6 separate regions of the Homo sapiens genome follow, and all the other regions are reported to be linked to region 3. The links are microRNA targets in miRTarBase. Many come from high-throughput screens and were not tested one by one. Region 3 holds a microRNA gene; each other region holds the end of a gene's coding sequence.
What was found. Region 3 holds the annotated microRNA hsa-miR-520a-5p (CUCCAGAGGGAAGUACUUUCU, at 1,783-1,803, opposite strand). A microRNA usually pairs through its seed, bases 2 to 8, with sites in the 3' UTR of a target mRNA and lowers its output. Matches are read on the target gene's strand: a 7mer-m8 pairs with bases 2 to 8, a 7mer-A1 pairs with bases 2 to 7 and ends in A, and an 8mer does both.

Region 1 (4,965 bases), not on the chromosome of region 3:
GTGAAATTCCTGCCTCAGCCTCTCGAGTATCGGACCACAGGACTGCCATGCCCTGCTTTTTTTTTTTTTTTTTTTTTTTTTTTTTTTTTTTTTTTTTGAGGTGGAATCTCACTCTCACCCAGGCGTGTGCCACCACGCCTGGCTAATTTTTTTTTTTTTTTGTATTTTTTGTAGAGACGGGTTTTCACCATGTTGGTCAGGGTGGTCTCGAACTCCTGACCTCATGATCTGCCCTCGGCCTCCCAAAGTGCTGGGATTACAGGCATGAGCCACTGCACCTGGCCGCCCTGCATTCATTCATTCATTCATTCATTCATTCATCTATCTATTTAGAGACGGAGTCTTGCTCTGTCACCCAGGCTGGAGAGCAGTGGCTCAATTTTGGCTCACTGCAAACTCTGCCTAACGGGCTCAAGCGATTCTTCAACCTCTGCCTCTGGGGCTCAGGTGATTCTTCTGCCTTAGCTTCCCAAGTAGCTGGGACTATAGGCTCACACCACCATGCCTGGCTAATTTTTTTGTATTTTTAATAGAGACGAGGTTTCACCATGTTGGCCAGGCTGGTCTTGAACTCCTGACCTCAAGTGATCTGCCCACCTTGGCCTCCCAAAGTGCTGGGATTATAATCATAATAAATTATATATGTAAATACAAAATACATGCTAAATCTTAGCAATAAAATTGAATGGATTTTAAATTTTTGTTTTTCCAATAGTCTGCATTGACAGTGTATTACTAAATCAGATAAAATACTATATGAAAAAATGGTATTCTCTGGAATATACTTCACCTGAAAATCTCTTAATATGGAAAGGTTGCTGAAAATTTACTAAGTATTTGTACTCACATAACATTGTTTAGATGTCTTGGGAAATAGTTTTATTCCATAATTGTTAAAAGAGAGGAAACCCCAAATGGAAATATATTGAACATATTTTTGGCTAGGCAAAAGGTTGAGAGATGATCTTAATTTTCCTTTTCTTTACATTTTCATGAAGGCACGGAGTGTGAATGTGAAGACACAAGCTCTTTCTGGATACAGAGACCAATTTAGTTTGGAGATTACAGGTCCTATCATGCCTCATTCTCTGCATTCACTGACCATGCTGCTCAAATCTTCACAGAGTGGATCTTTCTCTGCAGTACTGTATCCACACGAGCCAACTGCTGTATTTAACATCTGCCTGCAAATGGACAAAGTACTTGATATGGTAAGTAGACACCTATGAGCAGACTGTTTTAGTTGTAGTTTCCTCAAACTAGCTGGAGGGAAATTGAGTCATTTATGCTGAGTCACTATTGTGTTTCAAGTAATTAAACTGTTACTTAATTATGAATTACTAGAGGAAGGAATAATGTCTGTAAGTTGTTTATGTGAGGTAGCTTTCATGAATTCAGTCCAAGTACAATTTTTTTTTTTTTTTGAGATGGAGTCTTGCTGTTGCCCGGGCTGGAGTGCAGCGGCGCGAGTCTCGGCTCACTGCAGCCTTAGCCTCCTGGGTTCAAACAGTTCTCCTGCCTCAGCCTCCCAAGTAGCTGAGATTACAGGCATGTGCCACCACATCTGGCTATTTTTTGTATCTTTATTAGAGACGGGGGTTTCACCATGTTGGCCAGGCTGGTCTTGAACTCCTGACTTCAGGTGATCTGCCCACCTTGGCCTCCCAAAATGTTGGGATTACAGGCTTGAGCCACGGCACCCGGCCTCAGTCCAAATAGTTTTAACAGTGACTGAAGAACTTCCCATTCCAAAAAGGGGCAGCTTTTTCATTTCCTCTTGCATCCAAAACTCAATAGTACCTGATTCCTTTATAGTTTAAGGAAACAATTCACTGTGGGTATTTAACCATATTTGCCTTTAATTTTGAACATACTTAAGGTTTTTAGAGTTAGAATTAAGACCTTTAAAATTGTCTCATGCATCTCAGTTGGCTAGACTTATAACCATTAATATTTTGGGATTTTGTCACTACAAAAATTCTTAGCATCAACTTCTATTAATAGGATGAATCACATTAATCAGCCATTTATTTGTCAGTCTCCATAGTAATTATTTAACTCTTCTGTGTTTAAAGACTAATGTGCTTTTTACTGACTTGTACACACATTTCCACAGGAGGTTGTTCATAAGGAGCTTACTAACTGTGGTTTGCACCCTAACACTCTGGAGCAACTTAGTCAAATACCGTTACTTGGGAAATCATCTTTACGGAATGTGGTGCTGAGAGACTACATTTATAATTGGAGATCCTGAACACCAAAGTAAGCCTAAAAGGAATCTTTGAGGAAAAAAGCCTTCTAGCAAGGAAATTCAAGATTCTTGAAGTTGAAGGAATATACTGAAATGTTTATAAACATAACTTTTACTACAGTAGCATCTAAGGTTTTAAATGTGTTTTACTATTTTCAGATTAGATTTTTAGATATAAAGATGAAAAACTCAGATAACTCAAATGAGATATCTATATCCCTACAACCTAATTGTATATTGAGCAGAAACTGAATTAATATGCTTCCTTGCAAATGGGAAATCACATAGCAGTTACCCCATGGCATTGTGACTAATGGCATCAGGGCAAAAATATGTTACTTTACGATTTACCTGTTAGCAGGTTCTTGTTTCATAAAGGTAGAAAATAAATACAGACAACATCTACTGAGCTAGTTGATTGGTGATGCTTCTACCTTAATATCTTTCCTACTGATTTATAATTCCTTTATTTTCACATATACTAAAACTTTTTAAATGCATGTTAATTCAGATAAAAAGGCATTTTGTATTCCACATAGAATAGTGTTAAGAATTGTGAAGTACACTGAGCTGTCACGGCAAAGTAGTATTTAATGTGCTTATAGGGGTGTGTGTGTGTGTGTGTGTGTGTGTGTGTGTGTGTGTGTGTGTGTGTGTGTGTGTGTGTGTGTGTGTGTGTGTGTGTGTGTGTGTGTGTGTGTGTGTAGGGGGGGACTGTATAATTCACATTTTTAAAATAAAAGTGCTTAAAAATCAAAAGCATTGGGTAAAGAAATAATAGTATCTAAGTATTTGTTCACTTTATAACCCAGAAAATAAAACACCACGTTTATTCCAGAGAAGTTTGTATTTGGGCCTTAAGCTTTTGAAAATAAAGTTTAGAGACATAGCATATGAATACCACTGTAATACACATGAAATATTCTATCAGACCCTAAAAATTAACATAAACTTTTAACTTTCTCATAGTCAACAAAATAGTGGCTGGTTGCCAATTTTATTAGATAAGTTGGTTACAGCATTTTAATTATCATTTTACGTCTATCTAGGTGTAGCTGAAATTCAAAATGCACATCAAAGTAAAACTATATCACAACTCAATGCCATACTAAATGTACTGGCCTCTGCAATAGAATTCTAGTCAGACTTCATTTTTTACTCCCTTCTTATGACCCAAGTGGCTTTAACAGGAATGCAGGACTTAGTGCTGATCATCACACAACATACCACTTTCTTTTTAGAACCTCTACAAAATTTTGAGGGGAGATGGTGGCATTAGCCCTGTGGAACAGATCTTGATCACCTCAATAACACTGGCCCATTATCTGTCCAGCAGAACCCATTGTGAAATAGTACAAGGTGCACAGCCCTTCACTGATTACAGGCAAGTGTTACAGTAGCCTAGCCATAAGGAAGGGGAGTTACATCATAGTACAAAATACAGTATAAAAGCGTTATTTAACATTCCACACTGAAGATTACTCTGATGCCTTCAAACAGTCGTTTGGATGTTAGCCACTTAAACAAATACATCACTAAGGTAAACAATATAAACATACCAAAACCCTGTATGGTTAAATACAATTTCCATGGTACAAAAATCAAAGCCTGGAGATGTTTTTACAGATTGCTTTTTACACAATGTCTTAAATTGCCAAATATTTACAACATTAAAGAGGAAATACATTGTGATGCAGAGTAAAATTCTGAAATGATTATTATAAAACCTCAATCTATCTACGTGAGGCACTCCTGAAGCAAGTGGCATTAGCCATGAGGTCCTTTGGTACAAGGCCCATTGCTTGAAGAACCACAGTAGCTGCTGTGGCTTTAGCATGCTTCTTATTAGGGCTGGCAAAGCTGGGCTGGTAAGCGCTTCCATTTATCAATACCTATTCAAGAAAAACATACAATTGGGTCTGGTAAGGGCTCCATTTCTCAATACCTATTCAAGAAAAACATACAATAAGAACAGCATCAAACTTTAATATCTATTAGCTTTGTATTTTTTCACTAAATGCTAGAAAAATAATTTACAAAAATATAAAACCCATACTATGTAAGTCAAATTATAATCTCAACCCGAAGAACCAAATCATTTGGGAAAGGGACTGCAAATTAGAGCAGGTCTCCAAATTGAGAAAAAGACTGACAAAAGTATTAAATTAATTCCCCACATTCAACTAGAAAATAACAATTGTATACTATATTTTACCCTTTTCCAATTTTTTAAAAAATAGGACATTGACAAGTCGTATTAAAGCACCCTTCAGTGTTTAAAAACCCCACCACTTAACTACAAATACAAACCCCCCACCCATGAACAGAATCTTAATCCTGTGATCATGTTTACCCCTCACCCTCTAAGTCATCACATTAATAAATATATATAATTAATGCAGAAATTCATATTTACCCTAAAGAGAAAATGTTTGCGATGATCAGGGCCACTATCATGGACCAATAGAAATTCAGGTGGTTGCCACCTTCTTTTATTACAGATCTCCATCAAAGCAGACACAGGATGTTTGCCTGCAGGGGGGAGAAATACCCAGTTTTAAATTATTTCCACCAACTTCTGCAACAAATAATGAATTCAAGGTGGGATTAGGGTAAGAGGAAATTCAAAAACGTGCTCTCACCTGACAGATCTTTCATTGCAGCAGAGAAGTTCCCAGACCTCTTTTGTGCTCTTTCTCCTACTGCAACAAGAC
Region 2 (4,965 bases), not on the chromosome of region 3:
CCTGCTTCTAAAGACCTAGGGAGCACCCACTCTGTGCCTGAGGAGGCAGGTGGCACATCTACCCAGGTTGCATGGTTGGCTCTGGCCTATCATGTTTTAAATCTTTTTTTTTTTTTTTTTTGAAATGGAGTCTCACTCTGTTGCCCAGGCTGGAGTACAGTGGCGCAATCTTGGCTCACTGCAACCTCTGCCTCCTGGGTTCAAGCAATTCTCTGCCTCAGCCTCCCGAGTAGCTGGGATTACTGGCACTCGCAACCATACCCGGCTAATTTTTTGTATTTTTAGTAGAGACGGGGTTTCACCATATTGGCCAGGCTGGTCTTGAACTCCTGACCTCGTGATCCACCTGCCTTGGCCTCCCAAAGTGCTGGGATTACAGGCGTGAGCCACTGCGCCCGGCCCTATCACATTTTAATAACCAGGGATGGGACTGAACTTGAATTTTGACCTCAGAGCTCCTGCTTTCTAGCTCCTGCCCCATCATCACCATGCTTAGCAAACGTGTGAGTTTGAGAGGAAGATTTACAGCTCAGACCTAATTGCTGGCAAAGTTTAAGGAGAGGACAGGGAGCAGGCAGAAGTCTGAAAACCACGCCTGGGCCCAAGAATGTTTTCACAATGTGGCCTGGCTGCACAGGGAAGAACAGACAGCTTGAAGAAGTAGTGAGCTGCCCGTCTTTGAAGGTATTCAAGCAGTGGCTAGAGGGACACCTGTCTGTGGTCTTGCAGAATCCTGGCGTTGGGCAGTGACTGTACCACAGACCCTGAGGCCGCTCTGCTTTGCTTTCCTATGACATCAGACACCCTGATGCACGCCCACCTGTTAATGACCTTGCCCCATTTTCTCTTTCAGATTCTGCCCCCGTGGAGACTCCCAGAGGGAAGCCCCCACTCAACACCCGCTCCCAGGCTCCGCTTCTCCGATGGGTCCTTACACTCAGCTTTCTGGTGGCGACAGTTGCTGTAGGGCTTTATGCCATGTGAATGCAGGCATGCTGGCTCCCAGGGCCATGAACTTTGTCCGGTGGAAGGCCTTCTTTCTAGAGAGGGAATTCTCTTGGCTGGCTTCCTTACCGTGGGCACTGAAGGCTTTCAGGGCCTCCAGCCCTCTCACTGTGTCCCTCTCTCTGGAAAGGAGGAAGGAGCCTATGGCATCTTCCCCAACGAAAAGCACATCCAGGCAATGGCCTAAACTTCAGAGGGGGCGAAGGGATCAGCCCTGCCCTTCAGCATCCTCAGTTCCTGCAGCAGAGCCTGGAAGACACCCTAATGTGGCAGCTGTCTCAAACCTCCAAAAGCCCTGAGTTTCAAGTATCCTTGTTGACACGGCCATGACCACTTTCCCCGTGGGCCATGGCAATTTTTACACAAACCTGAAAAGATGTTGTGTCTTGTGTTTTTGTCTTATTTTTGTTGGAGCCACTCTGTTCCTGGCTCAGCCTCAAATGCAGTATTTTTGTTGTGTTCTGTTGTTTTTATAGCAGGGTTGGGGTGGTTTTTGAGCCATGCGTGGGTGGGGAGGGAGGTGTTTAACGGCACTGTGGCCTTGGTCTAACTTTTGTGTGAAATAATAAACAACATTGTCTGATAGTAGCTTGAAGTAGTTTTCATGGGCTTTGTTATTCTTGGGGAACTGACCTTTTCCTCCCTGGTTTCTTGCGTGCTCGGTAGGAGAAGTGGTGATAGGGGGTTGGCAGGAGCTGGTCTGTTTGAGAATACAGAAGGTGAGCTTTTCTTTTCTTTTTTTTTTTTTTTGAGATGGAGTCTCACTCTGTCACCCAGGCTGGAGTGCAGTGGCGTGATCTTGGTTCACTGCAAGCTCCACCTCCCAGGTTCAATCAATTCTCCTGCCTCAGCCTCCTGAGTAGCTGGGATTACAGAAGTTCATCACCATGCCCAGCTAATTTTTGTATTTTTAGTAGAGATGGGGTTTCCCCATGTTGGCCAGGCTGGTCTCGAACTCCCGACCTCAGCTGGTCCACCTGCCTCAGCTTCCCAAGGTGCTGGGATTACAGGCGTGAGCCACCGTGCCTGGCCCAGGAGGTGAGCTTTAAGTAGCTGGTGGGCGAATATTTGTGTTGAACCCTGCTTGATGCAATTCTCGACTTTATGGAAGATGGGGTTGCCCTGTTTGGTGGAAATGAGCAGATTCTGGGGCAAAATTTGTATTTTCTGTCCAGTGACTATTAGGGACTGGAGTGAAATTCTTAGGTTCAAATTCCTGCTACACCACTTTGAGGTTAGTCACTTAACCTCTCTGAGGCTCCATTTTATCACTGGTGACATGAATATAGTGATACCTAACTCACCTATGTGTCCTGAGAAGCAAACAAGATGCAAGTGAAATGCCAACGCCATACACAGTTAGCACCTATTATGCAAAGAAGGAGACCAGTGTTTTGTGATTCTTGTACTGTCGAGTCACCTCATCTATGTCATCCCTGTGTTGAGGGGGTGTTTCCACTATCTGAGGGTCAGGATGGATTTCACTGAGGTCTGTCCAGCTCTAAAACCCAAGCCCTTTCTATGGCCCTAAGTCAAGAAAATACTAAATATGTAGCCTCCCAATCTGGGAAAGTGAAAAACCTTTTGCTGAAAGTGTCCTGGGCAGAGCATGGGACAAGATTTTTTTTTTTTTTTTTTTTTTTTTTTTGAGACAGGGTCTGGCTTTGTCCTCCACACTGGAGTGCAGTGGTGTGATCTTGGCTCACTGCAACCTCCACCTCTTGGGCTTAAGCCATCCTCTGGCCTCAGCCTCCTGAGTAGCTGCGGCTACAAGTGCACACCACCATGCCCAGTTAATTTTTGTATTTTTTTTTTAGAGATGGGGTTTCGCTATGTTGCCCAGGCTGGTCTCAAACTCTTGAACTAAAGTGATCCTCCCACCTTGGCTTCACAAAGTGCTGGGATTACAGGCGTGAGTCACTGTGCCTGGCCAAGGTGTATTTTTTTTTTTTTTTTTTTTTTTGAGATGGAGTCTCATTCTGTTGCCCAGGCTGGAGTGCAGTGGTGCGATTTCAGCTCGCTGCATCCTCTGCTGCCCAGGTTCAAGCAATTCTCCTGCCTCAGCCTCCCAAGTAGCTGGGATTATAAGCACATGACACCGCACTCGGCTAATTTTTTTAGTTTTAGTAGAGACAGGGTTTTACCATGTTGGCCAGGCTGGTCTTGAACTCCTGACCTCGTGATCCACCTGCCTCGGCCTCCCAAAGTGCTGGGATTACAGGTGTGAGCCACTGTGCCCAGCCAAGGTGTTTCTTTATAGGACCAGTACCTAAGGACTGGAAGTCAGGAGACCTTTGTCACTAGTCTGACTATGCCACTTCAAGGCTCATTTTGTTCACTGGTAAAATGAGAACAATACACATACCTCTCACAGCTGGTGGGAGGATCCAGTGGTGTCCAAACACCAGTCTGTGCATGGTGGCATCAGAATTACTTGGAGATACTTAACCACAGAATCCAGGGCTCCACCTGGGATGGGGCTCTAGAATTTTTTTTTTTTTTTTTTTTTTTTTGAGACGGAGTCTTGCTCTGTCACCCAGGCTGGAGTGCAGTGGCGCGATCTTGACTCACTGGAAGCTCCGCCTCCCGGGTTCACGCTATTCTCCTGCCTCAGCCTCCTGAGTAGCTGGGACTATAGGCACCCACCACCATGCCCGGCTAATTTTTTGTATTTTTAGTGGAGACGGAGGTCACAGGTTTCACCGTGTTAGCCAGGATGGTCTCGATCTCCTGACCTCGTGATCCGCCCGCCTTGGACTCCCAAAGTGCTGGGATTACAGGCGCGAGCCACCGCACCCAGCCTAGAATCAGTATTTTTGAAAAGTACCTTAGGAGAGTCCAACGCGCACCCAGGTCCAGGAGCACGTATGGTCACGTATGCAAAGCATAGGCATTCAAATAGCAGCTGGAGCTGGGCACGGTGGCTCACGACTATAATCCCAACACTTTTGGGAGGCTGAGACAGGCGGATTTCTTGAGGCCAGGAGTTTGAGACCAGCCCGGCCAACACAGTGAAAACCTGCCTCTACTAAAACCACAAAATTAGCTGGAAGTGGTGGCGCATGCCTGTAATCCCAGCTACTCCGGGGGCTGAGGCAGGAGAATCACTTGAATCCGGGAGGCTGAGGTTGCAGTGAGCCGAGATCGCACCAATGCACTCCAGCCTTAGCAACAGAGCAAGACTCTGTCTCAAAAAAACAAAACAAAAACCCAATAGCAGCTGGGACTCTCCTGCCCTGGGCCCAGTTTCCTCATTTGTGAAAGGGGAATAGATATTCATTGTACTGACAAAGAAAGGAAGGAAGAGGGGAGGGGAGAGAGAGAAACTATCTTGAATTTTACTAATAGGAGAATGGCTGAATAATTTTTTCCTATCAATTGTCGAACAAAGCCAGACACTAGTTAAAGTGGTAAGGACGACCGGGCACGGTGGCTCATGCCTGTAATCCCAGCACTTTGGGAGGCCGAGGAGGGCAGATCATGAGGTCAGGAGTTTGAGACTGGCCTGACCAACATGGTGAAACTCTGTCTCTACTAAAAATACAAAAATTAACCGGGCATGGTGGCGCGTGCCTGTAATCCCAGCTACCAGGAGGCTGAGGCAGGAGAACTGCTTGAACTTGGGAAACGGAGGTTGCAGTGAGCTGAAATTATGCCACTGCACTCCAGCCTGGGTGATAAAGCGAGAATCCGTCTCAAAAAAAAAAAGTGGTAAGGACAGATTTTAATCAGTAATGATTATTGCAACAGGGAAGAGAGTTCAGTATGAACTGAACTCAGCTTTAATTTGTATAGAGGTATTTTAAAGGGAGGTTGACCAGCCTGGGCAATATGGTAAAACCCCATCTCTACAAATGAATAAATAAATTCGCCGGGCATGGTGGTGAGGTTGAGGTGGGAGGATTGCACGAGCCTGGGAGGTCAAGGCTGCAGTGAGCTGTGATTGCACCACCGCACTCT
Region 3 (4,965 bases):
GCGTGGTGGTGCACGGTTGTAGTCCTAGCGACACGTGAGGCTGAGGCAAGAGAATCGCTTGAACCCGGGAGGCAGTGGTTGCAGTGAGCTGAGATCACACCATTGCACTCCAGCCTGGGTGACAGAGCGAGACTCTGTCTCAAAAAAAAATAATAATAATAAAATAAATAAATAAATAAATAAATAAATAAAAGGTGTTGAGGACTGGAAGAACATGCATCGCTCACTATGGCAACAAGAAGAGCTGCTGTGCATTCCACCTGTTACGAGGGAGCCCCTTCTAGGGTCCTCAAGATTTTTGTGAAAACAACTGGTTTTGTTGCATGCTACATTTATCACTGTGACTGAGATTCATCTTGTCTACAACAGTTTCTTATATTAGCCACAGCTAATATAAGACACATTTGACATCTTAGCAAGTAACTGGCATTTAGATGCAAGGTTTAAGCCCATTGGAATGGTACCTTGGAATCGTTACCCAAAGAAAATAGGATAAACATGGCAGCTACAGTCAAAGAACTCACTGGGGTTGGCATTAGTGGGTGAGGGTTGAATCAACTACACCCTTCCTGCAGAGAAAGCAGGTCTATTCCGAGAAATGATGGCAAGATGTTGGGGAAAAACAAATTTCAGTGTTACGGACAAGCAGATTACACTAAAAAGACACGAGTGAACAGGAACAAAAAGAAATTGTATCAATACGGACACCCACTGGGGATTACAGAATAGACTGGATGGACTTGGAGGATTACCCACTCTCTTAATGAAGGAACCATGGTTTGGATTGATTATACTAAATTGATGGGAGGCCATTGTATGACATGACCAACCCAAATGAAATCTGTGGGACCAGGTGCTATGTAATCTGTTTTTAAAGAAATGGGATCTTGCTATGTTGGCCCAGGCTGGAGTGCAGTGGCTATTCAAAGGTGGGATCTGTGCACGGTATAGCCTTAAAATCAAAGCACCCTCCCGCCCCGGCCCCTGCAGTAACTGGGACTGTGTGCCCCATGATGCCTGGCCAAGTCAACTATCTTTGAAATGGGTCATCAGGACAAGGTGGCTCACACCTGTAGGATCGCTTGAGCTCAGGAGTTGAGACCGTCCTGAGCAACAGAGACCCCATCTCTACCAAAAATTAAAAGCTGAACCAAGTGTTGTGTCACGCCCCATGTAATCCCAACTACTTGGGAGGCTGACTCAGGAAGACCACTTGAGGCCGGACACAGTGGCTCACGCCTGTAATACCAGCACTTTGGGAAGCCAGGGAGGCAAATCACTTGAAGTCAGGAGTTGAGAACAGCCCAGCAAACATGGTGTAACCCCATCTCTGCTAAAAATACAAAAATTAGCATGACATGGTGGTGGGCGCCTGTAATCCCAGCTACATGGGAGGCTGAGGTGGCAGAACTGCTGGAACCTGGGAGATGGAGGTTGCAGTGAGTGGAGATTGTCCTACTGCACTCCAGCCTGGGTCACAGAGCCAGATTCCATCTCTAAATGAATGAATGAATAAATAAATAAATAAATAAATAAATAAATAAATAAATAAATAGAGGGTCTCTTGGGCCCAGGAGAGCTAGGTTGGAACTGCCACTGCACTCCAGCCTGGGCAACAGAGACCCTGTCTTGGAGAAAAACAAAATCAGAACCCCAACATCATCCGAGTCTGATGATGAGCGTGCTCTGCAAATGTATTACCAAGATCAGCATCAACTTCAACGCTGCTTTACTCAAACCGAAACAGTCCAAAGGGAAGCACTTTCTTTTCTCTCAGACAACAGAAAGTACTTCCCTCTGGAGGGTCACAGCCTGAGATCTTCTTGCTCCAGCACTCTGGGTTTATTGTTGGAATTTTCCTTGACCAGGTTTAAATGGACACAAAAATAAAGATGCATTTTTCCTGGCCCTGTTTGCATGTTTTCTGGAATCCAGAATATAAACCCCCTAAAAGGACCATCTCCAGTTCCTTCTTTCAAAGGCTCAGCAGGTTAGCCTTGTTCATCAAGGGGCAATCCTCCTGAGTTTTGCCCCCAAAGAGAAAAAGCAATGCCTACTACTCATACCTTATCTTTAACCAAGAGAATCGAACTGAATTTCTAGAGAACAGCAATGGATTTTGAGCCAAGTGTTCACTTGAGTTCCAGTATAGGCACATGTAGTACCCATGGGGGCATCCAAAATGGAATCTAAGATGTTGAAGAATGTACATTGTCGCACACACAAACATCCTCCAGGAGAGACCACAGGCTACGCTGTAAAAGCTCCTCAATAAAAAAATACACAAGTACCTGTTGGGTGCGGTGGCTCACATCTCTAACCCCAGCACTTCAGGACGCCGAAGTGAGAGGATCACTTGAGCTCAAGAGTTCCAGACAAGCCTGGGCAACATGGTGAAGCTTCATCTGTACAAAAAATACAAAAGTGAGCCAGGTGTGGTGGTGCATACCTGTAGACACTAATTCAGGAGGCTGCGGTGGCAGGTGGAGGTTGCAGTGAGCCAACATTGCACCACTGCACTCCAGCCTCGGTGATATAGTCAGGCTGTGTCTTGTAAAAACTAGAAACACATACACACACACACACACACACACACACACACACAAAGACACACACTCAAAGTGATAGTCTCCTGCCTCACCCTCCGGAGTAGCTGAGACTACAGGCGTGCGCCACCAGCCCTGGCTAATTTTTTGTATTTTTAGCAGAGACATGGTTTCACCATGTTGGCCAGTCTGGTCTCGCCCTCCTGATCTCAGGTTATCCACCCGCCTCGGCCTCCCAAACTGCTGGGATTACAGGCGTGATCCACCGCACCTGGCCATACATCATATATTTTTGAGACCCTGTCTCAAAAGAAAGAAAGTTCCATATACTGTATGCTCACAGAAAGAATAATTCCTACACATAAGTCCTTGCTTTGGCAGCTCACACCCCCGTCTCTAAAATACAAAACCTAAATCAAGTGTGCGTTGATAACGTGGTCATACACCCTGTATTTCAGCTTCATTTACCCAATAAAAACTCAAAGCCCATGCACTCCACCTCTGTGCTCTTGCGAAGCAATGCACATCCCATCTGCAAGGGACACTGAGGTTCCCTTCAACTCTACCTCAAGTCAAGTCAAGGGAGGTTCTGTAAACCAGTGCAGGCATAACTTCCACGGAGTGAAAGGTGTTGAGGGCTGGACGAACAGGCATCACTCACTATGGCAACAAGAGCGGATGCGCATCCCACCTGTTACTAGGGAGGCCCTTCTAGGGTCCTCAAGGTTTTTGTGAAAGTATCTGTGGTTTTGTCCCATGTGACATTTATCACTGCAACTGAGATTCATCTTGTCTATAATAGCTTGTTTCTCATATTAGCCACAGCCAACATTTCACAGCTTACCAAGAAATTTGCATTTAAATGTGAGGTTTTGCAGGTTGGAATGGTACACTGGAAAAATTACCTGCAGAAAACAGGATAAACAGTGCAGCTGCAGTCACAGCACTCACTACGGTTGGCATGAGTGGGTGAGGGTTGAATCAACTACACCCTTCCTGCAGAAAAAGGTCTATTCCGAGAAATAAGTGGAAGCTGTTAAGCAAGAAAAATTTTCGATGTCAGGGACGAGCAGATTAAATTAAAAAGACAGGAATGGGCCGGGCACGGTGGCTTATATCTATAATCCCCAGCACTGTGGGAGGCCAAGGAGGCAGATCACTTGAGGTCAGGAGTTGAGACCAGCCCCGCAAACATGGTGAAACCCCGTCTGTGCCAAAAGTACAAAAACTGGCAGGTCATAGTGGTGAGCATTTGTAATCCCAGCTACTAGTGACACGGAGGTGGGAGAATTTCTGGAACCTGGGAGGCAGAGGATGCAATGAGTGGAGATCATCCCACTCTACTCCAGCCTGGGTGACAGAGCCAGGCTCCATCTCAAAAATGAATACATAAATAAATAAAAAGAGGATCACTTGAGCCCAAGAGAGCTAGGTTGGAAGTGCCACCGCACTCCAGCCTGGGCAACGGAGACCCTGTCTTAGAAAAACACAAAACCAAAACATAACCCCGCTATCATCCAAGTCTGATGATAAGCATGCTCTGCAAATGTATTACCAAGATCAGCATCAACTTCAACACTGCTTTTCTCAAACCGTAACCCTCAAAAGGGAAGCGCTTTCTCTTCTTTCTGACAACAGAAAGCGCTTTCCTTTGTAGACTCATAGCTTGAGATCTTCTTGCTCCAGCACTCTGGGTTTCGTGTTGGAATTTTCTTTGACCAGGTTTAAATGGACAGAAAAATAAAGATGCATTTAGTGGCCCTGTTTGCATGTTTTCTGGAATCCAGAATAAAACGCCTGAAAAGGACCATCTCCAGTTCCTTGCTTCAAAGGCTCAGCAGGTTAGCCTTGTTCATCAAGGGACAATCCTCCCGAGTTTTGTTCTCAAACAGAAAAAGCAATGCCTACTAGACATACCTTATACTTAACCAAGAGAATTGGACTGGATTTCCAGAGAACAGCAAATGGATTCTGAGCCAAGTGTTCATTTGAGTTCCAGTGCGGAGACACACAGTCCCATTGGAAACATCCAAAATGTGATCTAAGATGTTGAACTATATACATTGTCGCACACACAAACATCCTCCAGGATAGACCACAGGCTAGGTGGTAAAAGCTCCTCAATAAAATTTGAACAGGAATACACAAGTACCAGTTGGGTGTGGTGGCTCATACCTCTAATCCCAGCACATCAGGAGGCCAAGGCAGGAGATTCACTTGAGCTCAGGAGCTCAAGACCAGCGTGTACAACACGGTGAAACCCTGTCTGTAAAAAAATACAAATGTAGGCCAGGTGTGGTGGTACATGCCTGTAGACACTAATTCAGGAGGCTGGGGTGGGAGGCGAAGGTTGCAGTGAGCCAAGACTGAAACACTGCACTCCAACCTGGGCGACTGAGCCAGATCTTGTTGCAAAAAA
Region 4 (4,965 bases), not on the chromosome of region 3:
AGTAGGAAAGAAATGGAAGAGGGAGAAAGAAAAACAAAGAGGCCATGGGGGTGATAAGGCAAGCACAACATTTATAACACACTAAGTATCTAGCTCAGTGCTATGCATAAGATATGTCCAATATGTGTATCTGAATGGTTTTTAAAATGTATTAATTCATATCTAATAACTATATATTTTAGTTATACAGTAATTTCTCAAACATACAAATGCTTGTAGCTTTCTTCCTTGGACCCAGTATGTAGATTTGGCCATGGGTCTCTCTCAGTTTCCTTACAGATTCTAGCATATGGATTCAGTGCCTGGAACCTGCACATGTTGTGGAGTGGAACATCATTTTATTTTCCATTCTCATAACCCTCAGTGGGCTTCAAGTGATCATCTGCCTCATCAGAGTAGTCATGCAACTATCCAAGATACTGTGTGGAAGCTATTCAGTGATCTTCCAGGTAACAGATTCTCATGGGCACCTGTAGCTCATCCATATTTCCCCCACTTCCCAGGATTCAATGAGGCTTTTTGAAAAGACTCTAGAATTCCATCACTTTCCCCCCATTTCTATTGCCCTCATCTTTATTCAAGCTCTAATATCTCAATTTTTTCTGATATCCCAATGTGTCTTGGCTTATCTATAAGGGTTGAATCAACTCAGTAATTGTAAAATCTGCATTTCTTGTTGTATGGTAAGGCTTCATAAGTGTTTTGAATGAGCAAAGTTTTAGTGTTCTACATAGAGATAACTCAAAGCATGATGAAATTTTACCATTTATCAAGAATTTCCCTGTTCATAAGTTAAGCAAAGGCTCAGAACCTTATCTCATTGAAATAACTTCTCTTCTGAATGCTGCTACATTCAACTAATGAACCTTTATCTCGAGTGCATAGGAGTGCTTTTGAAGAAGAAGGGAAATATGTATTTATCCCATTGAAACTACTTCTACTTCGTCTGCTAAAATACTAATGTTAATTTAGTTATGGTTGAAACTGCTATCAAGAAGTCCAGAGTGAAGAAAAATTATGAATTTAGATGGCTTGTATTTTGTTTAACAACAGAATGTGTAATACCTTTCCTAGCAATTTCTAAGAGATGTTTTTTCTGTTCTATCATATTTTGAATATGAAATATAAGTTTAAGTTGCTATCTGGATTACGGATTACTAATCAAGCCAAGTTTATAACTTTAATCACTTTGTTTTTCCTTTTTTCCTATAGCCTGGAATCATTTGAATAAGGACAAAATGTTTTCCATTATCAAGACATGGCCATCTATCTAAATATTATATCAACTGTGTAGACTTGAGGGCAATATTGAAATGATGGTGCTTTCTGCATTTGGTGTTTATTTGTAAAAAATTTGCAGTCCTCACTGCACATGCAAGTATACCACCCTTCCATTTAGTATGTTTTTTAAGTAATATGCATCAGAAACTTCAGAAATACTTCTGCCCTTTGATCAAACAAATCCATTTCCAAGAATCTGTACTAGGGAAGTAAATAAGAATATGAGAGAAACCTTTATGCAAATATGTATATTGCAACATTATTTAATATTCTGGAAAATTGGAAACACCCCAAAATTCTAAACTCAGAGGAAGGATTAAGTAAAGAGTGGTACATACTGTAAATGTTTTCTGATATTAAAAAAAAAATTAAATAAAAAATAAAGAGTACTACATGGTTGTAAAATTACAGTCATTACAAATGATGTTTTTAAAATTATGAATAATGCTACATCAAAAAGCAGGTTACAAATTCATGTTTACTATATAACTATTTAAAGCAAATGAAACACTAATAGTCAAAGTTTAGGATGAAAACTAAATCTAAAAGGAAATATAACAAAATGCCAATTATGCTTGGTTTGGGGCATTGATGACCCTTCTTCCCACTTTTCTATATTTTCCAAGATTTCTTTATTGAATATGTTTTACTATAAATATTTTCTAAACTCATATTTTCACTATTAAAATTTTTTTATTTTTCCAAACTTTAAGGCATATGCTCTTTCCACATTCCTCAACATTATTTGCAAACATCATGAAATGACACTTCCATCAACATTCAATGAGGAAAGTAGTGATATAGATGAGCCAAAAAGAGTTTTATATAAACTTATACAATCTAAACTCTTGCTCTTCCTTTCTGACTCCTGAGGGTGAGTGTGATGGACTAGAAGAGGTAGCCTTAAAATAAGTGAGCAGCTAGGGAACATGCTCAATGGGCAAGAGAAAATGACCACTGACCAGTCAATACCTGTGTCAGGGGGAGTTACCAGTACCTATATTTATTTTTAAAGTAATTAAAAAGTAGAACACTTACAAATTTTCCACCTATACATGCCATGTCTTCCTCGGGGACAGTAGCCACATCTTATATATTTCCCACCATGCATAGGACCCAGCACACAGTGAAGCCAGTAGGCACTCAGTGTTGAATGCTCATACCAGGTTTTCTGCTTCCTGTAGTTACCCTGCTGAGCACTGCTTCCATCACAGGTGCACTGGGCCTCAACACTTCTGCCATTTCCCCATTTGTCTCCTCCATGGACACTGTCAACAATGGTCTGTCAACACCTGCTCTGTGCCAAAGCCAGGGAGTAGGCTGGGGGGATACGGAAGAGAATATCTTTCTCCTTGATGCCTGCTGTGCCAACAGCCCCCTTTAAGCCTTGTTCACAGCCTTTGCTGAAACAAGCATCTTGAAAGCAAGCCATGTTATACACCGCATGACCTTCATGCTCTGGGCCCAGCTGACTGAACTGGGGCAGGCCCCAGAGTCATGGGCAGCCTATTGTCTTGCTAATGGCCTCTGACTTAGCCTGGAGTAAAACACTGTCCAAACAAGACTGGTGGTTATTCAAGCATAAGAATTTGAACTAGGAAGCCAAGAATGAAGCAACCGGACCATTACCATCAAAAAATGATTAAAGGATGAAGAAGGAAGCCAACATTCAGAGAGTATCTGGTTCATGTTAATAATGGTATCATATTAAAAGGAAGATACATGAACTTCTACTCCAAAAGCTCCTAAAACTGCCTTTGCCCACAATGAACAGTGTACCCTAGGCCTGGTTTCTGTTCTTGGATTCCTAGATAGTCTTTCTTCTTTGTCACTGTGCTGATCATTTCAGTAAACCCCCGACTAAATCAGTGCAGCTCTGTTTATTGCAACTAAAACGATCCAAATGAAGTCTCCCTTTTCTAGATGTTGGGTTGGAGGGATGCTAAGACAAAGATGCTTAGGCTCCAGAGTTTTACAGAGCTTCATTCAATAACACTCTACTTTCCAAAGAACTTAAATATGAGGTCTGAAGGACTTGGACCAAGAGGCAAACCCAAGCTACAGACACCATGTTGTACTCAGAGTGACCTCTCCCCTCTGACAGCCCAGGATTTCTCTATCAAGTCCATAAGCTAGTCATATCTAGGACCATCTTGTTAAAAATTCTCTCAAAGTCTCCTCAGCCCTCTTGTAAACAGACTTCTGGAAGGTCCACTTCATCAGTTTGTTATATACTTTCAGACTGTCTATCTCTTGTTTAGATTCAGCATGGCACCGTACGTTGAATGGACTGTTAATAGATGTTTGCTGAATGACTCCACCACAGCATTGGACACATCAGGGGTACAGCCAAATGCAGCATGATACCTCTATCAGGAAAATTAAATTTTAACACAGCCACCAAATATTCTATATTTGAAGAGTATATGCTAATCATGCAATTTTAAGTAAAAAAAAGCTGAATACAAAAAAAGCTGAATATGTGTTTTATATCCTCGTGAATTCAAAGTAAAAAGGAAAAAAAACTCAAAAACCAAATATATGTATGCAGTTTGAGCCCAAATTTTTAATTAAGTAACCATATAATTACATGTAGACATGTATAAACCTTGAGATATGTAAAGACCAGAAAAATATTTAAAAGTTAATAGTTACATCATCTGTGGTCACAACACCCTGAAAATGCCTAATATTGGAAACTTAAGCAGGATTGATCCAGGTTATTACTTGGATGGGAGACCAGATGCTATAGGCTGAAAAAAGAAAGCATAAGTACGCACAAGTTAATACTTAATAATTATCTCCTAATGATAGGACTATAAGTTCTATCTCTTTTCTTTACATTGTTCAGTATTTTCAAATTTCCCTTTGAAAATGTGTTATGTACTTGAATTATTAGAAAAAATAAATGTCATTTAAAAAGCAATGGTCCTCTAATTCTTTCTGTAAAATTCATTTAAGGAGTTAAAATAGAAAATATATATAGGTATGTATATGACTGGCCTTCTCTTACCCTTTCCAGAAATAATCTTTCCACTTTTTAATTCTGAGAGTATTATGAGCTAATCCTGATTGAGAATGATTTATGTTTTATGCATTTCTGCACTTATTATTTATCTACTGTTCTCCTTGCTTCTATCTCATTGTTATTTTCCTAACTTCTTAAATAGAATACCTAGCTTATTGATTTTCTAACTTTCTTTTTTTCTTAAAATAAGCACTTAAGACTAGACATTCTTTAATTACCACTTTGGCTGAATCTCACAAGTTTTAAAATGTTGCATTTTCCTTGTTTGGTTATAAATATTTTCTAGTTTTCTTTATGATTTATTTTTTGATCCATGAGATTTTTAATGTGCTTTAAAATTTCCAAGTATATGGCTGGGCGCAGTGGCTCATGCCTGTAATCCTAGCACTTTGGGAAGCCGAGGAGGGCAGATCACAAGGTCAGGAGTTCGAGACCAGCCTGGCCAACATAGTGAAACCTTGTCTCTACCAAAAATACAAAAAAATTAGCCGGGCATGGTAGTGGGTGCCTGTAATCCCAGCTACTCGGGAGGCTGAGGCGGGAGAATCGCTTGAACCCTGGAGGCGGAGGTTGCAGTGAGCCAAGATTGTGCCACTGCACTCCAGCCCGGATGACAGTGTGAGACTCCATCTCAAAACAAACAAACAAACAAACAA
Region 5 (4,965 bases), not on the chromosome of region 3:
TTCTTTACTGCATTTCCAATTATGTACTCATACCTGTGCCATCCATTCATCAAGAGCAGGAGTTTTTATCACAGGGTCTGTTAGCCCCTAGAACGGTGCTCCCTGGGAGATTCAGACTCCAGCATCCCTAGATATGCTAATGGATTGAGTGAGACCCAGATACTTATGTTTTTGACAAGTACCCCAGATAATTCCTCTGATAACAAGAAAATTGGGGAACTAAGAGATTCATGGACAAGTTTCAGAGGGCTGGTGACTGTCCTCACCCTTTACTCAATTTAAGCATGATTTTATGAGTACATTTTTTGAGGTGTGTAGCCTTTTTTTCTTTAAAGCATCTCTGATGTAGAAAAGTTAAAAATCACTGAATTAGGATGTCTAGGGTAGGGTAGATCCAGACTTGGGACTAGTTAACTCTATTTGCCTTTATTTCAGAATACAAAGTGGCCTGCATAATTATGTCATTTGTCTTTCAGAACCAAGAAATTGAAGAACTGACAAAAATCTGTGATGAGCTGATTGCAAAGCTGGGAAAGACTGACTGAGACACTCCCCCTGTTAGCTCAACAGATCTGCATTTGGCTGCTTCTCTTGTGACCACAATTATCTTGCCTTATCCAGGAATAATTGCCCCTTTGCAGAGAAAAAAAAAAACTTAAAAAAAGCACATGCCTACTGCTGCCTGTCCCGCTTTGCTGCCAATGCAACAGCCCTGGAAGAAACCCTAGAGGGTTGCATAGTCTAGAAAGGAGTGTGACCTGACAGTGCTGGAGCCTCCTAGTTTCCCCCTATGAAGGTTCCCTTAGGCTGCTGAGTTTGGGTTTGTGATTTATCTTTAGTTTGTTTTAAAGTCATCTTTACTTTCCCAAATGTGTTAAATTTGTAACTCCTCTTTGGGGTCTTCTCCACCACCTGTCTGATTTTTTTGTGATCTGTTTAATCTTTTAATTTTTTAGTATCAGTGGTTTTATTTAAGGAGACAGTTTGGCCTATTGTTACTTCCAATTTATAATCAAGAAGGGGCTCTGGATCCCCTTTTAAATTACACACACTCTCACACACATACATGTATGTTTATAGATGCTGCTGCTCTTTTCCCTGAAGCATAGTCAAGTAAGAACTGCTCTACAGAAGGACATATTTCCTTGGATGTGAGACCCTATTTTGAAATAGAGTCCTGACTCAGAACACCAACTTAAGAATTTGGGGGATTAAAGATGTGAAGACCACAGTCTTGGGTTTTCATATCTGGAGAAGACTATTTGCCATGACGTTTTGTTGCCCTGGTATTTGGACACTCCTCAGCTTTAATGGGTGTGGCCCCTTTAGGGTTAGTCCTCAGACTAATGATAGTGTCTGCTTTCTGCATGAACGGCAATATGGGACTCCCTCCAAGCTAGGGTTTGGCAAGTCTGCCCTAGAGTCATTTACTCTCCTCTGCCTCCATTTGTTAATACAGAATCAACATTTAGTCTTCATTATCTTTTTTTTTTTTTTTGAGACAGAGTTTCGATCTATTTTAAGTATGTGAAGAAAATCTACTTGTAAAAGGCTCAGATCTTAATTAAAAGGTAATTGTAGCACATTACCAATTATAAGGTGAAGAAATGTTTTTTTCCCAAGTGTGATGCATTGTTCTTCAGATGTTGAAAAGAAAGCAAAAAATACCTTCTAACTTAAGACAGAATTTTTAACAAAATGAGCAGTAAAAGTCACATGAACCACTCCAAAAATCAGTGCATTTTGCATATTTTTAAACAAAGACAGCTTGTTGAATACTGAGAAGAGGAGTGCAAGGAGAAGGTCTGTACTAACAAAGCCAAATTCCTCAAGCTCTTACTGGACTCAGTTCAGAGTGGTGGGCCATTAACCCCAACATGGAATTTTTCCATATAAATCTCAATGAATTCCCTTTCATTTGAATAGGCAAACCCAAATCCATGCAAGTGTTTTAAAGCACTGTCCTGTCTTAATCTTACATGCTGAAAGTCTTCATGGTGATATGCACTATATTCAGTATACGTATGTTTTCCTACTTCTCTTGTAAAACTGTTGCATGATCCAACTTCAGCAATGAATTGTGCCTAGTGGAGAACCTCTATAGATCTTAAAAAATGAATTATTCTTTAGCAGTGTATTACTCACATGGGTGCAATCTTTAGCCCCAGGGAGGTCAATAATGTCTTTTAAAGCCAGAAGTCACATTTTACCAATATGCATTTATCATAATTGGTGCTTAGGCTGTATATTCAAGCCTGTTGTCTTAACATTTTGTATAAAAAAGAACAACAGAAATTATCTGTCATTTGAGAAGTGGCTTGACAATCATTTGAGCTTTGAAAGCAGTCACTGTGGTGTAATATGAATGCTGTCCTAGTGGTCATAGTACCAAGGGCACGTGTCTCCCCTTGGTATAACTGATTTCCTTTTTAGTCCTCTACTGCTAAATAAGTTAATTTTGCATTTTGCAGAAAGAAACATTGATTGCTAAATCTTTTTGCTGCTGTGTTTTGGTGTTTTCATGTTTACTTGTTTTATATTGATCTGTTTTAAGTATGAGAGGCTTATAGTGCCCTCCATTGTAAATCCATAGTCATCTTTTTAAGCTTATTGTGTTTAAGAAAGTAGCTATGTGTTAAACAGAGGTGATGGCAGCCCTTCCCTAGCACACTGGTGGAAGAGACCCCTTAAGAACCTGACCCCAGTGAATGAAGCTGATGCACAGGGAGCACCAAAGGACCTTCGTTAAGTGATAATTGTCCTGGCCTCTCAGCCATGACCGTTATGAGGAAATATCCCCCATTCGAACTTAACAGATGCCTCCTCTCCAAAGAGAATTAAAATCGTAGCTTGTACAGATCAAGAGAATATACTGGGCAGAATGAAGTATGTTTGTTTATTTTTCTTTAAAAATAAAGGATTTTGGAACTCTGGAGAGTAAGAATATAGTATAGAGTTTGCCTCAACACATGTGAGGGCCAAATAACCTGCTAGCTAGGCAGTAATAAACTCTGTTACAGAAGAGAAAAAGGGCCGGGCACAGTGGCTTATTCCTGTAATCCCAACACTGTGGAAGGCCGAGGCAGGAGGATCACTTGAGTCCAGGAGTTTGAAACCTACCTAGGCAACATGGTGAAACCTTGTCTCTACCAAAATAAAAATTAGCTGGGCATGGTGGCACGTGCCTGTGGTCCCAGCTACTTGGGAGGCTGAGGTGGGAGCCTGGGAGGTCAAGGCTGCAGTGAGCCATGATCATGCCACTGCACTCCATCCTGGGTGACAGCAAGATCTTGTCTCAAAAAAAAAAAAAAAAAAAAAAAAACCAGGAGTGAAAAAGGAAAGTAGAAGGCAGCTGCTGGCCTAGATGTTGGTTTGGGAATATTAGGTGATCCTGTTGAGATTCTGGATCCAGAGCAATTTCTTTAGCTTTTGACTTTGCCAAAGTGTAGATAGCCTTTATCCAGCAGTATTTTAAGTGGGGAATGCAACGTGAGGCCAACTGAACAATTCCCCCCGTGGCTGCCCAGATAGTCACAGTCAAGGTTGGAGAGTCTCCTTCCAGCCAGTGACCTACCCAAACCTTTTGTTCTGTAAAACTGCTCTGGAAATACCGGGAAGCCCAGTTTTCTCACGTGGTTTCTAGCTTCTTCAGACTCAGCCCAAATTAGGAAGTGCAGAAGCACATGATGGTGAAAAACCTAGGATTTGGCAGCCTTCCAGAATGGTATGGAATCTGAGGGAAGATTTATGTTTCGTTTTGGAGGATAGCTCAAGTTGAATTTTCTTTCCAGCCAGTTACCCTTTCAACCTACCCATACTTTGTACAACTCTTACACAAATACTTAGATATTTATTAGATAGCCCTGAATTCACTCTAATTATAAACAGGGAGTGTAAACTGCCCCCAGATGTTCCTGGGCTGGGTAAAAGCAGCTGGAGTGAAGCACTCATTTTCCATAAAGGTAACAAAGGGCAGCTCAGTGGTTACTCAAGCTCAAAAGGGTTTTTTTAAGAGCAAGCATTGGTTAAGTCTGTGTATACTGAGTTGGAAGTGATTTCAGCACATTCTTTTTTAGTGGAGTGAAAGTTCTGAAGCCCCCTTTTAACTTCCTCTTGGTTTTTCATTATAATTGGTAGCCATCTCATGAACTGTCTCTGACTGTTGTCTCTTTGTGGTCATGTGATTGTGAGCTTGCTTTCTGACTTGCATTTCTGACTTTATCCTGTTGTTAGGAAGATAGAAACTAGGTTTTGAAAGATTACATGATTCAAGCGAGGGATTTTAAAGTAAAGATGTATTTATTCTGAAGAATCTAAAAGATAACAGATTATTTGCTTATGAAAGAACAATATAGTCTGGGAATCCCAGAATGTCAAGCCAAAGGTCTAAGAAGTCATCTCCTTCAAATACTTTAATAAAGAAGTATTTCGAGGAGATATCTGTCCAAAAAGGTTTGACTGGCCTCCAGATTCCAGTTATTTTTAAAAAGCAACTTACCACTAAATCCTTGAGTCTCCATAGAGTAACAGTAAAGAAACTGATGTAACAGACTCTCCTCTCAAAGGATCTCCTCTGGAAGAGACTATCAGCGGCAGCATTCTCCAGGGAAGACCCATCCCCTAGTGCCAGAGCTTGCATCCTGGAGACTAAAGATTGCACTTTTTTGTAGTTTTTTGTCCAAATGCAATCCCATTTCTGTGCCTCTTAGCATGCAGTTAGATTTGGACAAACAAGATTCCTAAGGAATGACTTTATTAACTATAATATGGTTACAGCTATTATATAAATATATATTCTGGTTATAGTTCTAATATGGAGATGTTGTGTGCAATGCTGGCCTGTGGTGGTCTGTGTAATGCTTTAACTTGTATGGAGGAGGCCAGGCTCAGAGCTGAGATGTGGCCTGAACCTTCCCTGTATCGATCCTTTAATTTAGAACTGTCAAGATGTCACTTTCTCCCCCT
Region 6 (4,965 bases), not on the chromosome of region 3:
TTTTCTTTACCTGGAATAATCCCTTTCTCCTCCTCCCACATTTATTTGACTGACTCCTACTAATTTTTATGGTCTCAGTGTAGATGCTTCTTTTTCCAAAAAGTCTTCCTGATAGTCCTTTCTTGTATTTAACAATACAGCTCAGTCACATTGTATTTGTCTGTTTACTCTCAGTCTGCATTCTTCACTAGACTAGTTCTTCACCTTTATAACTCCATCAGTGGGCCGGGTGTCGTGGCTCACGCCTGTGATCCCAGCACTTTGGGAGGCCGAGGCGAGTGGATCACATGAGGTCAGGAGCTCAAGACCAGCCTGGCCAACATGGGGAAACCCCGTCTCTACTAAAAATACAAAAACTAGCTGGGCATCGTGGCGGGCGCCTATAATCTCAGCTACTCGGGAGGCTGAGGCAGGAGAATCGCTTGAACCCAGGAGGCACAGGTTGCAGTGAGCTGAGATGGCACCACTGCACACCAGCCTGGGCAACAGAGCAAGACTCTGTCTCAAAACAAAACAAAAAACAAAATAAAACAAAAAACCCATCACTCACTTAGCCCAGTGGCTGAAACTCAGTAAGGGTTCAAGACATACTTGTTAAATAATATACCTTAATAAAGTTGGTTAAGACTGATATTTTATTGCATTGTAGTTTTCTGTATCTTCTAATCTAAAAATAAACCTATATAATTTGTACAATCAGAAAACACATTAAATGTTCAATATATATAAAATAAAATTTAAAATGCCATTAAGATAGTAAAGTCATACTTGTGCATAAATTTTGGTTTTAACAACAGTGAGTTATAACTTGGTCCCTATTTTAAAATAGGGTTTTGCAGGGCGCGGTGGCTCATGCCTGTAATCCCAGCACTTTGGGAGGCCGAGGCGGGCGGATCATGAGGTCAGGAATTCGAAACCAGCCTGGCCAACATGGCGAAACCCCATCTCTACAAAAAATACAAAAATTAGCCAGGTGTGGTGGTGGGTGCCTGTAGTGCCAGCTACTCAGGAGGCTGAGGCAGGAAAATCGCTTGAACCTGAGAGGCAGAGGTTGCAGTGAGCCAAGATCACTCCACTGCACTCCAGCCCGGGCAACAGAGAGAGACTCTGTCTCAAAAAAAAAAAAAAAGCGTTTTAAAAAATGTAATTCAAAAGTAACAAAATATATCTTACCAACTTTATTCATTCAAAAATGCATATAGTAGTACTTCATGAAATGCCATCCTCATTTTAATTCAGATTTACACCACTGAAAATAGCTTTTAGCTTTATTTAGCAATTTTATGAAGAAAAAGTTCATTCACAGAGCTGTGTAAACTCAAACATAGGTTACAGAGCAAAAATTTCAGGATTGCTCTGGGATCCATATATATGTTTCCAAAATTTAAAGCAGTGTCATTCTGTCTAGCATAGTTTACTTCTATCTCAATCTGCTTCTCTTGAAAACAAGCCACAATTTTGGCTGGGTAATTCAGACATATCCTGAGATTTGTTCTTTAAAAGCTGCCACAAAAACTGAAAGCATAATTCATACTCATTAAAAGCTGTGGATCCCTTCTGAAAGTGTGAAATGGATTAAGTTGATGAAAATATGTTTCGTATTTTTTTCATTCATTTAAAAATTCCCTATTTTTGAAACGTGATCAGGCTCTTCTTCACTAAAATATGTGATTCCATGGAACTCTGGGCAGCTCAGTACTGGAAGCTCAATACAGATTCCAGTTACCATCTACTCATTCCCCAGGTCCTGTAGAACTCTGAATACCTGTTCTCCCATCAACAAAAGTTTCTTGTGCAATCACAAGTTCACTGTGTTTGGTTGTCGTGTCATACTGGTAGAAAAACTGTTCCTCTGTGAACCACTAAGAGTTACATTTCTTAGACTGGGGAAACAGCTTGAAAAATCTCTTTGAATTTTCATGACTTAGAATTGAACATTTCACTACATAAAAATCAACCAAATCGATGTGTCCATCAATGGAGGATTGGATAAAGAAAACGTAGTTAATGTAGTGAGTGATAAAGAAAATGCAGTTTATAAACTCCAACTTGACTTTAATAAATTAAATTCCAAGCTGTCACACAGCAATGGACATCATTATCATCGCCCAACACACACACACACAGTGGAATACTACTCAGCCATAAAAAAGAATGAAATCATGTGTTTTCCAGCAACATGGGTGGAACTGGAGGCCATTATCCTCGGTGAAATAACTCAGAAACAAAGTCAAATATGGCATATTCTCATTTATAAGTGGGAGCTAAATAATGGGTATACATGGACATATAGAGTGGAATAAAAGACATCGGAGACTATGAAAGGTGAGAAGGTGGGAGGAGGGTGAGGGTTGAAAAACTACCTATTGGGTATGATGTTCACTATTTGGGCGATGCGCACACTAAAAAAAGCCCAGACTTCACCTCTATGCATGCAATATATGCATGTAAGAAACCTGCACTTGTCCCCCCAAATATATAAAACTAAATTATCTAATTGAAAAAAAAAATCTATACCCTCCATTCTTCCCGGATATCTCATATTTGGTGAGTAGTGTGGACAGGAGCATGGGGAATAGTAACAATTTCCACATGCTATCTACCCAAAGGCATGTGCCCTAAACACCCTGAGATATAGGTAGTCATAGAATGTCAAGGCTGGAAGTGACCTGAATGTTTATCCAGGTCACCCTTATTTTAGATATGAGGAAACTGAGGTCCCCAAAGGAGAAGTTGCCTGCTCAAGATCACTTGGTTTGTCTGTGGCAGACTCAGTTTTCTTGCTTCCTGGTCCTGCATTCTGCCCAATATCCTGTAGCAGCTTACCTGGTTCAAGTCCTGTATAAGATCTCAAGCACGGGAACCAGGGACACAGTTTGCTAGGATCTATCAATCCCTGAAATTTGCCCACATTTCAGAATGAGAGAGCTTTTATTATGTTGAAACACTTCTAAGACTTCCCCCTCCCAGTTTCTTCTGAGGCAACAGTTAACACTCAGCACTTCATTTACTTCTCATCCACAACCAAATGATAGCCATGATGATTGAAGTTCCCATTTTACAGATGAGAAAACTGAGGCACTTAGAGGTTACATAACTTGCCCAAGGTCACACAAGTAATTAGAAGAGCTGGGACTCAAACCCAGGCAGGCAGTCTAGTTACAGGGTCCAAGCTTTGATCTCCATTACATCCTAGAAGGAGCAGCCTGTTCCAGAAAGGGGAATGAAGACTAACCTGTACTAGTTGATTGAGTTTTTTGCTACAATTTCATACTCCAGAGCCTCCTGTCTCTTCCATCCTTTCTCTGCACACCCCTTCTTCCCTGCAGGAACTTCTTAGCAGATCCACAATGTGTGTCATCTACCCAACCTCATTATCCGGGCCCCTGTCTCATCCTCCCACACCATCCATGTCACAGCCTGGCTGCCTACTGCCTTTCAAAGGATAACCAGTTGTCCAGTTTATAAACTCCAATTTGACTTTAATAAATTAAATTCCAAGCCATCACACAGCAATGGACATCATCATCGTCTCCCAACACACAGAGGTGCAGCCTTGCGTGGCTCCATCATCACAGTCTTTAAATAAAGCCCCTAAAGCCATCTCTCTGGGGAAGGCTTCCCACCAGGCTCCCGGCTCCCTCCTTCCCACAGAGCCACTGCTCACAGAGAAGGCATCAAGTACAAAAAACGGTAATAAAGGGGGAGGGAGGGATGAGGAGCAGGAGGGGAGGCAGGAAGGTGGGGAGTACCTGCCCCCCATCCCGGGCCGGCCCTGCTCTCTGTGAGCTGCCAACATTCTCAGAGGCAGACACTGGTGCTGGTCTGAGTGGGGACCTGAGGGAGGTGTGGGAGCCCCATCCCAAAGGGAATTACCCACCCTCCTGGGACAGAAAAGAAGGGTCACCTGGGAGAGATGCCCTCTATCATCTGTTCACGGAGGGTCCTAAGCCACACATATAAATAGAAAAGAGAATAAATAAGGGAAGAAGGGTCAGCTGAAGAGCTGAGCACCCTGGGACTCCGCTCAGGGACCAGGCTCAGCAGGAGGCAAATGCTTCTGGGGAATACCCACACATGCCGGACAGGGCCCTCCTCTCCCTCCCAGCCACCAGTCCCTCGTCCATGTCCTCGGCACCGGGTGCCCACCTCTCATGTGCTTCCCGTTCCAAGTATCCTTCCAACCGGCCCCATGGCCCAGGGTGGACGGGGCTTCCCGGAACCCAGAGGGCTTTCCTGGCCCAGGCACTGGAGATCCAGGAAGGGGTATGGAAGGGGAGGTGGGGAATGGGCTGAGAGAACTCGTGCCCTTTCAGAGCTGGGTCCTCAGAGCTGGGGGCTGGGGTTACCATTGGCCTTGGGTTTGGATTTGAAGGAAAAGCGCTTGATAAGGCGGCGAGAAAAGCTGCCGGCCTTCTTTCGGACACTGGGCGTGGCCGTTGCGTTGGAGAGGTCATCGTGTGATTGGCTCAGGCCAGCTTCCTTCTGCCTAGGCCTCCGGCGGAAGATGAGCTTAGTGCCGCTGCGCAGGAAACTCACTGCAGGGGAAGAGGGGAAGCTGAGGCAGAGAGGGGCACGGGGTGGGGTGAGACGGGGGCAGAGACACGATGGAGAATGGAGGGAAAGAGGATGTGGACAGGATCAGTCCCGTGGCCCAGAAGCCAGGCTTCCTCAGGAAAGAAAGCAGAAACATACTTCTCCATAAGGCTTCGTGAAAAAAAGAAAAAAGAAAACGAAAGCAGAAACAAACATGTGCTTTATCCTTCCTGAGGCAAAAATCGTGGTACTTGTGGGGATCTGTGTACAATCTTAACTCTGCCCGCAAAAGAGATATCACGGAGCTGGCCGCTTTGTGAGGACAAACTGGGATTGGGCCTCTTTCCTATGGGAAGACAAAAGCTACCAGAAGGTACTCCCAAAAGTCTATAAATCATGAAGGGAAAGGTAGGTTGACACTGACTTGTT

Region 1: the mRNA of SON is a reported target of hsa-miR-520a-5p. Seed matches in the 3' UTR shown: 8mer at 3,084-3,091.
Region 2: the mRNA of HMOX1 is a reported target of hsa-miR-520a-5p. Seed matches in the 3' UTR shown: 8mer at 1,126-1,133.
Region 4: miRTarBase lists TM4SF18 as a target of hsa-miR-520a-5p. Seed matches in the 3' UTR shown: 7mer-A1 at 1,552-1,558 and 7mer-A1 at 3,483-3,489.
Region 5: the mRNA of TACC1 is a reported target of hsa-miR-520a-5p. Seed matches in the 3' UTR shown: 7mer-m8 at 1,024-1,030, 7mer-m8 at 2,929-2,935, 8mer at 3,600-3,607 and 8mer at 4,572-4,579.
Region 6: the mRNA of C2CD2L is a reported target of hsa-miR-520a-5p. Seed matches in the 3' UTR shown: 7mer-m8 at 3,275-3,281 and 7mer-A1 at 3,210-3,216.

What each region holds. Positions count from the first base shown.
Region 1 is chr21:33,575,596-33,580,560 of GRCh38, reverse strand. SON (SON DNA and RNA binding protein) reads right to left here. Exons shown (of 12, transcript NM_138927.4): 10 at 4,894-4,965; 11 at 4,668-4,783; 12 at 3,080-4,196. The coding sequence ends at 4,137. It overlaps DONSON (DNA replication fork stabilization factor DONSON), which reads left to right. Exons shown (of 10, transcript NM_017613.4): 9 at 999-1,211; 10 at 2,117-3,010. The coding sequence ends at 2,254. Among named protein-coding and RNA genes, the nearest start is that of DONSON, 11 kb to the left of the region's middle.
Region 2 is chr22:35,392,615-35,397,579 of GRCh38, forward strand. HMOX1 (heme oxygenase 1) reads left to right here. Exons shown (of 5, transcript NM_002133.3): 5 at 854-1,593. The coding sequence ends at 984. Among named protein-coding and RNA genes, the nearest start is that of MCM5, 5.0 kb to the right of the region's middle.
Region 3 is chr19:53,687,733-53,692,697 of GRCh38, reverse strand. MIR520A (microRNA 520a) reads right to left here and starts at 1,817; the gene lies at 1,733-1,817. It overlaps MIR1283-1 (microRNA 1283-1), which reads right to left and starts at 4,217; the gene lies at 4,131-4,217. All of the region lies in intron 2 of LOC107985342 (a long non-coding RNA gene), which reads right to left.
Region 4 is chr3:149,317,740-149,322,704 of GRCh38, reverse strand. TM4SF18 (transmembrane 4 L six family member 18) reads left to right here. Exons shown (of 6, transcript NM_138786.4): 5 at 269-449; 6 at 1,213-4,207. The coding sequence ends at 1,227. All of the region lies in intron 1 of TM4SF18-AS1 (TM4SF18 antisense RNA 1), which reads right to left. Among named protein-coding and RNA genes, the nearest start is that of TM4SF18, 13 kb to the left of the region's middle.
Region 5 is chr8:38,847,479-38,852,443 of GRCh38, forward strand. TACC1 (transforming acidic coiled-coil containing protein 1) reads left to right here. Exons shown (of 13, transcript NM_006283.3): 13 at 477-4,965. The coding sequence ends at 545. Among named protein-coding and RNA genes, the nearest start is that of PLEKHA2, 51 kb to the right of the region's middle.
Region 6 is chr11:119,115,618-119,120,582 of GRCh38, reverse strand. C2CD2L (C2CD2 like) reads right to left here. Exons shown (of 14, transcript NM_001290474.2): 14 at 2,039-4,538. The coding sequence ends at 4,327. Among named protein-coding and RNA genes, the nearest start is that of HINFP, 3.5 kb to the left of the region's middle.